2 separate regions of the Homo sapiens genome follow, and region 1 is linked to region 2. The links come from fine-mapping of genetic effects on gene expression. A gene starts in region 2. The other region holds a variant in brackets. All regions are shown on one strand. Distances are between the middles of the regions. Region 1 overlaps CHST11 (carbohydrate sulfotransferase 11). Region 2 holds the start of CHST11 (carbohydrate sulfotransferase 11).

Region 1 (5,521 bases), 300 kb before region 2:
GTAGGGAGCCACCCTGGGCCCTATACCCCACTCACCCTCTCCTCTCTTCCTTCTGTCCACACCACCCAAGACTTCCTCCACTCCCTCTGGGAGGGATAGAATTGTAGTCCGTGGCAGTATCCAGGATTAGAACCATTGCTTCATTAAATAAAGTACCTCTGTTGCTATAAACCAGATGGAGACTGTGGTGCTATTTTGTATTTTTTTTTTAATGGAAGGGTGTTGGGGTGGCAGTTTTTATCCTTGAAGACCTCAGATATGCTAAGTCAACCTAAGCAAAGTATACTCGGTGGAACCCTAGCTCTGTGGGGTGATCTGCAAAATAGAGTATCCTGGTCATGTAAGTTCAGGAAATGCTACAGACTCAAGGATTATTTTTGGGGATTCACCATGCACAGCACACATTGAAGGCTGAAAAGTCCTTGCAGAAAGGAAACTGACTTAACTTTGTTTCTTAAGGATATTTGACCACAAAACCCTTAGTCTGCATCACACCAACCTGATGCCTCCTGGAACCTGTGTTCTGTAGAATGCGTATTAGAAAATGTTGGACAACCTGTTTCATTATCAGAAGTCCCATTTCTGAGGACAGTGTTCTCTGCCTGGAAATAAGGTCCAGATTCTCAATTCCAGGGACAGCCAAGGTCTGTCACTCTACCCAGTAAAACACATTGCGTAAATCTCCATCCATCAAGGGTATAGTTGCTGCGCCCTTCACAAAGGGGAGAGAGCTCGGAAGAAGGTACACAACGTTTTATAAATAGCTTCAGCTACCTTCTCCGGCCCACATCTCACTCACGTTAAATAAAATAATTTCCCCGGTGAGATGTTGCAGCTGCTGCCCACTGAGCTTGCTGTGAGCTTTACAATACAATCTTAATAGTTTCTGTGAATAAATTATTCAATTTTTGTTTGTTTAGAATATCCTCACCCCTTCACTATATACGGCATCAAAAACAAAACAAAAGGCAAAACTTACCCACACCCCATCCCACCCTCCCCTATTATTAAAACTATTATTATTATTATATACAGTAGCTGCTACCAACTCATTCACTAGCTGTAAGAGGGATGTGGCTCAAACTTCAACTGAGAAGCATCAGCAATGGCTGGAAATGAGAAGCATGTTTAGATGTTAATTAGCAAGGAACAGGAAATGAAAAGTTTCCAGGCTTCCAGAGGAAATGGGGCATGGATTATGGAAGGCTGTCCTTGCTGCTCATGCATGGCAGTTACCAAGATGCTGATAGTCTTTCAGCCTCTGGAGGACGTGAGAGGGTGTGCATGTGTGTATGTGTACAAATAGTCCACCTCTGACCTTCATGAGGGGTAAAAACCATTGCAAATCCCCAAGTGTACGAGTCTCACCTTGGCATTTCACACTTGTACGTGGCAAGCAGTAGAAGACAACACTTCTACATGGGGATGTGGTGCTAGGCTGAATGGAGATGACAGTAGGAGGCACTTGAGGAGTGTTCCCCTTTCCTCACCCAAGGCAGACATTGCTAATCAACCACAGCACTCTTCCACACTGTGCCTGGAGAATCCATTCTGGGGCTTAAAGGCAGACATTACCCATCAGTTGGAGCAGGCACATGATAGGACACATTTTTTTAGCATCTTTTCTGTTGGTCAGTGAGCTTGGGATCACTCACGAATATAAAGTGGCCTGCTCCGAATGTGAGGTTTTCAAATATGGGCCATAGAAAAATGTAAATTTGTAGGGGTCATGGACCTTCTGCTGTTGCTCATGAATAGTCCAAACCTCATGTCAAGTCCATGAATAATATCAGGGGTTTGCTAATTGTCGAGCTGGATGCTCTATGTCACATAAAGCTTTTTGAGGGCCAAGACTATTGGGTTTGTTCAACGCTCTATCTTCAGGGCCTAGTATATAGTAGATGCTCAATAAATATTTGTCGAATATAAAGCAATAGCCACTTCACCTTCACTGCAACTGGCACCGCCAGTTTAAAATTCCTGTTAAAAAAGCCTATTCTATCAGATTGCTAATTCTGGTGAAAAATTGTTACAACCAACTTTCTCCTTGGGTTAAAAAAAAATCACATTTCTTTAGTGCAAGGGACTTTCAGGTCGATTGGAATTGGTTTGGAATGAGTCCCTTGCAAAGATGACTCTAAGTGCAATAGCAACCTACTTATTTCTAGCAGAAATTCAAGAATGGTGGCATCCATACACATGACAATGGCTGTTATCACATGACTCCATGAGAGGTTAGTAAGGAGAACATTCATGCCCCCAAATGAGCTGTAGCAAGCAAAGCAGGAATCATAGATTTCTTCTGGAAAGATGTTAGAATTTTGCTGCCACAAAAAGAAATAATGAGACCATGTTTAAATAACTATAAATAATATTAATTAGAATTTATGGAATGCACAATTCATGGAATTCACCAGAACACAAGAAACCTTTGAGACAGTGTTGCAGTATTCACTTCTACAGACAAGGACGACCCATCCTATTTCCCCTGCAAAGACAGCTGTCCTTCCCTACGAAGGATTTTAAATAATTCTCACTA[T/C]GCTGCTCGCAGCATCATCCCCAAAGAAATATTAATTTACAAAATAACCCAATATCCATATAATTCTTTTGACAAATAAAAATCTTAAATTAAAAAGCATGATTCTCTCCCTCTCCCCACCCCCTTTATTCCAATTTCAGGTAGCTTGGCACTGAGTAATTGAACATTAAAAAATCGAGTTTGTAGACTTCGTACAGCTGCGTTTGGTGCTCTGAGCTGATGTTCTGGAAGAATTCTGTGGTCATTTCATCAGTAGTTCTCGTAGACTTTGCATAGGTGGGGAACTTCAGGTAGCTGCCCACTCCTGCCAGCTGCAGGACGTAATTAGAATCCTCTTCCAGTGTCTCGTACTTGCCCACGAGGTCATAGTGGATGTGGCAGGGATGGCAGAGTGAGTAGACGGTTTGCCAGTGTTCGTTGAAAGGCTCCTCCCGCTGGGTGTGTGGGTCGATGAGATAGGCCACAAACTCCTCGAATTTGACATCGTCCCCTTTGCGCAGGGCCTCCTGGGTGGCGTTCTTCCGCTGGCGTTTGATGATCTTGGTGCCGTACCGCTTGTGGAAGGAGATGTTGTACTTCTGGGTGAACTTGTTGCGGTAGGCGGACACTAGCCTCTCGAAGGGCTCCCGGACAAACAGGAACTTCATGTAGCTTTTCAAGCGGTGGTTGATTTCTGGGATGCTGTACTGGTTCAGGGTCTTCAGGTTGGCGGAGACGTGTGCCTCGTTGGCCGGGATCTCCATGGGGTCGCTGTACTTCCCCCGCCCGGTCAGGACCATCATGAGCCGCTTCCAGTTGGTGCAGGCCACCTTGGGCACGTAGCAGTAGATGAGCTCGTGGTCCTCATCCACCACCAAGTGCTTCAGGTCGTTGGGGGTCAGCACCCTCCGCTTACGGCTTGTGGCGCTGTTGGCTCGGCACGTGTCTGTCACCTGGTCCCGCCGCATCTGGTGCAGGACAGCAGTGTTTGAGAGCTCCAGCTGCAGAGGAGACACAAGACGAATAAGAACTCAGTACTTGCCTGAAACATTTCCACTTGGCTACAAGTAGATCATAAATCCACCCGTTCAAACACATATCTAAGCTGGGTGCAGTGGCTCATGCCTTTAATCCCAGCACTCTGGGAAGCTGAGGCAGGAGGATCGCTTGAGGCCACAAGTTCAAGACCAGCCTTGGCAACATAGTGAGACCTCATCTCTAAAAAAACTAAAAAATTAGGAAGGCATGGTGGCGCACACCTGACATCCCAGCTACTTGGGAGGCTGAAGCAGGAGAATCACTTAAGCCCCAGAGTTCAAGGTTACCTTGAGGTATGACTGTGCCACTGTGCTCTAGCTTGGGTGACAGAGCAAGACCCTGTCTCTAAACACACACACACACACACACACACACACACCCCACATGGATCCAGACCTCATGATGTATAAAGTGCTCTGCTCAGCACTGCAAAGAGACATAACCTAAATCACTCATAGTCTAGGAGGTGCCAGGGCAGAGAGCTGTCAGCCTCAGTAGAGGGCAAAGGGAAATGCTTGGGAAGATGTGTGTGTTCCTCTGAATTCTAAGAGCAAAAGTTTCTCCCCAAAGGCCATTCACTCCCAGTCCAAACCAGTACTCACAGTCTACCCAGAACAGGAAACAGGAGGGCACTCTGCCTGCTCTGCCACCACCTGCGTCTCCAGCACCCAGAGGCTCAGAGACCTTCACGGAGTGGTGGCACCCTACTGTCGGATTCCTGCCTTACCTCCACCACCACTCATGAAAGTTCAGTATGGTCCTTCTTTTATATAAATGGAATAATATTAATTGTGATTAAAGTTACAGAGAAACTGGGGGCACAGGGCTATGGAATAGTTGCTCTGGAGCTACAGATGAGGTGGTGTCTTGGTTGCCTCCTTGCCCCAGGAACCAAGCCCCCATTCATACACTGGCCTTTTGGGGTTCTCCATAGCCCAATGCCAACCTACTTTTCCAGCCTGATTCCTACTCCTCACCCTTTCATAACCGGAGGGGGGGGTCCCGAGAAACCAATGATTCACTCTTTCCTCTTTGCCGCAAGCGTTCCTTAGGCTGGGCCCATCTGGGATTCTCCCCTCTCAATCTCTGCTGGTATAAACTTGACAATTCTTTTCTTTTCTTTTTTTTTCCAGAGTCTTACTCTGTTGCCCAGGCTGGAATGCAGTGGCGCGATCTCAGCTCACTGCAACCTCCGCCTCCAGAGTTCAAGCAATTCTCCTGCCTCAGCCCCCCGAGTAGCTGGGATTACAGGCACGCATCACCATGCCCTGCTGATTTTTGTATTTTTAGTAGAGACGGGGTTTCACTACGTTGGTCAGGCTGGTCTCAAACTCCTGACCTCAGGTGATTGGCCAGCCTCAGTCTCCCAAAGTGCTGAGACTGCAGGGGTGAGCCACTGTGCCTGGCCCCAAACTTGACAATTCTTCATGGCCCCACACACTCCCCTGCCACACAAGTGGAATAACCATTCCCTCCACTGAACACCCACAACACTGAGTGTGCTTCATAGCACAACCCTCCTGTCTAGTTCATTCTTGGTTTTCTCAACTCCTGTGGCCACTCACTTCACAGGGACTCGGAGCCCCAGAGTCACCGCCTCCTCCAGGCCAGACTGTGGGTGGCTTTGAGTCCTGAGAATGCAGCTGTATCCGTGAAATCCTCCAGTCACCTGGACAGCCAAGTCAGTAGAGCCTAGGACTTGAGTGCAACCCAAGTATCTGCCCCTGCTCCTCCAACTTTGAACCTCAATCTGCACAATTTTTACTAAAAGGTGCACAGGGCCATTGGGATGGGCCTAAAGTAGGGCCACTGATGAGTTTGCTGGGGAACTGAGGGGCATCATGGTAGCCACCAGGGAGAAGCCATTGCACCCTGCATTAAGCTCCATGTCCATCTCCTCTCATGGTCCCCAGGACAAAGGATGGTGATGGTCACCATGACAACAGCAGACAGTATGACTAAGGA
Region 2 (5,000 bases):
CTGCCTGTTTGATGGAAAGAACAGCTTTATTCCTCTGCCATCGACCCAAACGCAGGCTTGATGAATTCGGGACTGCGTCTGTTTAAAGTGTTAGATACACAGTGAAAGGAGAAGGCGGGAGGCAAAAATGAAAAACACCAACCCCACTTCCCTGGAAGGAAATGCGTTTCCACCTCCCTCCTCCTTGCAATTAGAAAAGCAAATTATTGCTGTGACTACGCTGAGAAAGGCAACTCGGAGGCGTAGAAAATGGATTTCTGAGCCAACGTGGCCCGGCAGGGGGCTGCTAAGGGAGGGTAAAAGGGAGCAGGGGAGCCACGGCTTGGCGGGGAGACCCGCGTTACCCGGAAGGCTTCTCGGAACGTTCTACCTGTTGGGCTTCGCAGCCGAGCTGCTCACCCCCGGCCGCCGCGCTCGAGGGCGCCCCTCCCTCTCCAGAACCCAAACTTTCCCTCGCACCCCTAGGAAGCGACGAGCCTCGTCCCTCCCCCAGTCCAGATTTCGGACGTGGAACTTTGCCTGAGCCACAAGGGACCGGAGGAATGGGGTTCATTCCCACGCCGCCCGGGGGATTCCCGTTGCTCGGATCCCAGAAGTGGGGGATGCAAACGGACGGTCAGCCCAGGACCTGGCCAAAGTTTCCTCCAAAACTGCAGTGGTCAAGGCGTGACCCAGGAGCTCGGAGTTTCCAGCTCAGGGCTGGGGGCTGGAGCAGGCCCCGGGGCACCAGCCGCAAGGTCACTGCGGAGCCGGACCCCGGGGGCAAACGGCCGGCGCGTGGTGGAGGGGCAACGCTGGGCACCCGACCACTCTCCACACCTGCTCAGCTCTGCGCGGAGCCCGGGACACGTGGGAGCCCAGTCCCGGGCTCCCAGCCTGCTGCAGGGACTCGCAACCTCGCCGGGGCGTACACCCTTCGCCCCCGGCCCGGCAACCAGGAAGAGGCGGCTCGCCCGGGCGCAGAGCAGCCGGCTCCGGGTAACTCTTTCATCCTCCGACCTCGGCAGCAGCAGGGAGGGAGTTTCGTTCTCCTCAAACCAGCCCCTCACCCCCGGTTGCTTCCCACACCTCTCCGTTTCCCTGCTACCTCGCAGACAGACAGACAAGGGACACAAAGAAAAAAAGAAGAAGAAAAAAAAAAAAAAAAAAACTACCGCCCCTCCTGGTCCCATCCTCCAGCCCGGAGCCGGTAGGAAGAAGAGGGCGAAGCACACCTTCCCTTCTCCTCCCCATCCCGACGCGGTGACCCGGGTAGATCTGGGCAGCCAGGAGCTCTGGGCAGCCAGGAGCCCCGAAGAGGCCGAAGGCGGAGAGGTAGGGTTGGAAGAGGCAGAAATCAGGCGGAGCGAGCTAGAGCGCGAGAGAGAAGAAAATATCCAACAAAACCACGCTAACGCGCCCCCTACCTGGGTGCAACATACTTTGGAAATAGAAGATGACCAGGATAAAGGATCCCAAGCAAGTGGCCAGCACCATCCGGCAGATTCTGTTCATCCTCATCACTTCCAGCAGCGCTGGCTTCATGGCTTTGTCCTGGCTGCGGGGACCGGGGTGTCCGGGAAGCGCGCCCGGGGCGCAGGAGCAGGGACCCCGCCGCGCGGACCGGAGCCCGGGAGGCGCGGGGCAGAGCTGAGCAAGGCTCAGAGGGAGGATCGGAGTCGCTTCGCGGCCGCTCTCGGAGCCCCCAGCCCGGGCAGGGGTGTGGAAGGTGCCGGAGTTGGTCTGGAAGTGCTGAGATGCGTGGACCCGCTGGCTGCGCGCTCCTGCTCCTCCTCCTCGCCGCTCCGCCGCCTCCTCCGATCCCGCCGGCGGCCGCCGCTGCCTGGTCGCGGGCCGGGCGGCTGGGGTGCGAGCGGTGATGGTGGTGCCGCCGCCGCTGCCGCTGCGCTGGCCGCTGTGGCTGTCCGACGGGCCCTCTCCCTTCTCTCCAAAGGCTACTTCATTGCGCTCCAACGATCTATATATTCCGGGGCTGGGTTTTACCAAATGCAACTCGCGGCCCCCGGCGAGGGGAGGGCGCCTGCGGAGAGCCGGGAGGAGGGAGGGACCCTAGCGCCGGGGCGGAGCGTCGCGCTCCCCCCGCCCCTACCCGGGATATGGTCGCGTCCAGCTGTTGCCCGGGGAGTGCGGTGTGCGCGCCGCGCTCCCGCAGGGTCCCAAAAGCCCTCAGTCCCCGGCCGGGCTCGGCCGCCGTCTGGAGGTTGTGTCAGCGTTTCCATGACAAAACCCGGAGGAAAAAAAGACGAAGAAAATCGCCTCGGTGCTGCCACCCACCCCCGCCAGCGTTTGGAGAGGGAAGTGGCAAGCAGCGGGCTGGGTCTCGGAGGGAAGAATTAAGGGTTAGGGGGTTTCTGGTGGCTGGCAATTATTTAAAATCCCTGGGCGACGTAGCGGGGAAGTTGCCCCAAACCCCCAGGGAGCGAGTGCCCATTTTCCGACGCTCAGAACTGGGCGGTTTCGTTTTTCTTTCAAAGGACAGCCCAGCTTGGGAGTCGGGGTTAAAGAGGGCTGACTTAAAGTCAGGGTTAAGGAAACTGCACGACCCTCGGGTCAGGCGACAGCTGAGCTTTCCCGGGGACTTATACAGACAGAATCTCTGACACCCACCATCACCACCATTCCTCAAGGCAAAAGGGATCTGTGGGTTGCAAAACTCTGCTACCCCAAAGGGTAGAGCATCCTCCAAATTATTCAAAATTAACAGCAGTCTTAGCTGGGAGGGGGTGAGAAAATGCCCCTAGGAAGCCACCTCAACCAAGTCCAGAAAACTGCTGGAAAAGCCAAGCCAGCCATAGCACTGGCAGGTACATGGAAAGATGGTGCTGCTTTCTTGTATTGTGTAGAATGACTTCCAGTTTCCAATTCCATGCATTTAGGCTGTTTCACAATCAATAAAGTGGACACAGCCAATAGTGTAGGGATCACTCGTATGTCAGGGAAAAAAAAAATGTTAGTTAGACTAACCTTTGTGCCTTATCAAGTCATTACTAATTCAATTAAAAATGAAATAAGATACTGTGTCTTTCAATGCCTCTCACAAAATAGGCATTTGATAAATTCTTATTGAATCTGAATGTAATGGGCCTTATCCTCCCCTCGATAGACAGAGACACAACTTGCAGTTAGACACATGCAACAAAAACCACCTGGGCAACCTCAGTTCCCTTCCCCCAGAGTTCTCCTCCAGCAGTTGCATGGTGGGGAAAGTAACAAACTCAGCAGCCTTGCCTTTGATTACAGAAGACAATCAAAGCACAATATTTATGTAGCCGGTGTGCGCTGTATTAATTTGGACTTACCTGTGAATAAGTTGCTTGCTCAAGGAAGCCAGGCTGAACAAGCTTCAGACAGAGTCGTTCTCCAGTGATTCTTCTGCTCTGGTGATAGGAGATCAGGAATGGGAGTTGCACTGCACCCTCCCCACCTCCCCACCATCATCACTAAGAAAGGGGATTCCTTGCAGAGGGCATGGCTTAGATGGGCATTTGCACAAAGCCTTTGCCTGGAATATAAGTCTCTCATTTAACACTTGGCTTTACAGAGCCAGGGAGGGGAAGGGATTTACTCCCAGGTCACCCAAGTGACCTCTCACCTCATAGGCCAAAGACTTCAGTTACCTGCCCCAAAGCCTGGACATGCACAAGGCAGTTTGGGAAGTCACAGGGTCAAGGAAGAGATCAGAAGTCCAATTCCCTGTGAGTCACAGAGATCATGGAGTTGGCCCACATGGTGGGGGAGGATGGTGAATCATGCCCAACATCCATTCTTGCATTCCCACAATCAGGAACCTGCCCAAACACAGTGAGGATTAAGGCTGTGACACATAAGCTACCACCTCTCCCAAGAAGTCTTTGCTGTTTTCTCACCTGAAATTGCAACTTTCCTCCTCTGCGCTGTGAGCACTAGGTCCAAACCTCTTTTGGGCCACTGTACCCACTAGGCTGAACTCCTTCCTGGAGATCCAAGTTGTCTTCATCTCTGTCTCTTTCTAATGCCCAGCACAATGACTGGTACATAGTAGGTACAAATAAGTCAGAGGCAGAGAGGTAATGCCTACTTGGACTAGGAAGTTAGATTAGATCACCTCTAAAATCTATGACAAAGGTCAGTGGTAATGGTCTGTGATTCTGTTGTTCTATGCACATTGAGGGGTGATGAAAAAATTCTGTTTTCTCCTTCATCACACTCTAAACTGCCCAACTACAGTTAGAATCATTGCTTTCTTTCCATTCCTAGCCTAAGAAAATTTTGTTACATCTTATGCTATATAATAAATATTAGCCAAGTAAAGGACAGTATTAACTGATAAAACTGAGGAGAAAAATTTTATACTTTGAACATTGAAAGAGGAACGGATCAGTCTTCAGATCCTTTCTCCCTCATCTTTCTAAATTCCCTTTTGCCCTGAAAGATTCTGCAGATTGGCATTGTGCTCATTGTGGGACCTGGCTTGATTGATTGACTCTCCAAATTCAACAACATGCAAGTGAAACTGGGGCCTGCATTTTTGTTTTGTTTTGTTTTGTTTTGTTTTTGAGACGGAGTCTCACTCTGTCGCCCAGGCTGGAGTGCAGTGGCGCGATCTTGGCTCACTGCAAGCTCCGTCTCCCGGGTTCACACCATTCTCCTGCCTCAGCCTCCCGACTAGCTGGGACTACAGGCACGTGCCACCACGCCCGGCTAATTTTTTGTATTTTTTAGTAGAGACGGGGTTTCACCATGTTAGCCAGGATGGTCTCGATCTCCTGACCTCGTGATCCGCCCACCTCGGCCTCCCAAAGTGCTGGGATTACAGGCGTGAGCCACCGCGCCCGGCCAGGGGCCTGCCCATTTTAAAGCCTGGCATGGCCCTGAAAAACTGGTTGAGGAGAAAGTCTTATTTATGTTGACGATCTTGTAGAATTTATAGCAGGGGAAGAAATCGGTGTGAAGTCACAATTCGGGCTTCTGGGTGCTGTTGTCAATGGACTGACAGATGTTTATGTGGCCCTTCCAATCCG

The links.
Region 1: its variant is fine-mapped to the expression of CHST11 in whole blood (TOPMed, PIP 0.93).

What each region holds. Positions count from the first base shown.
Region 1 is chr12:104,754,947-104,760,467 of GRCh38, reverse strand. It overlaps CHST11 (carbohydrate sulfotransferase 11), which reads right to left. Exons shown (of 3, transcript NM_018413.6): 3 at 1-3,519. The coding sequence ends at 2,665. Among named protein-coding and RNA genes, the nearest start is that of MIR3922, 170 kb to the right of the region's middle. The variant T/C (reference allele first, on the strand shown) is at 2,540.
Region 2 is chr12:104,453,936-104,458,935 of GRCh38, reverse strand. It overlaps CHST11 (carbohydrate sulfotransferase 11), which reads right to left and starts at 1,988. Exons shown (of 3, transcript NM_018413.6): 1 at 1,407-1,988. The coding sequence starts at 1,524. RefSeq lists silencers at 450-509, 670-809, 1,400-1,679, 1,720-1,889, 1,970-2,099 and enhancers at 1,200-1,249, 2,170-2,249, 2,270-2,319.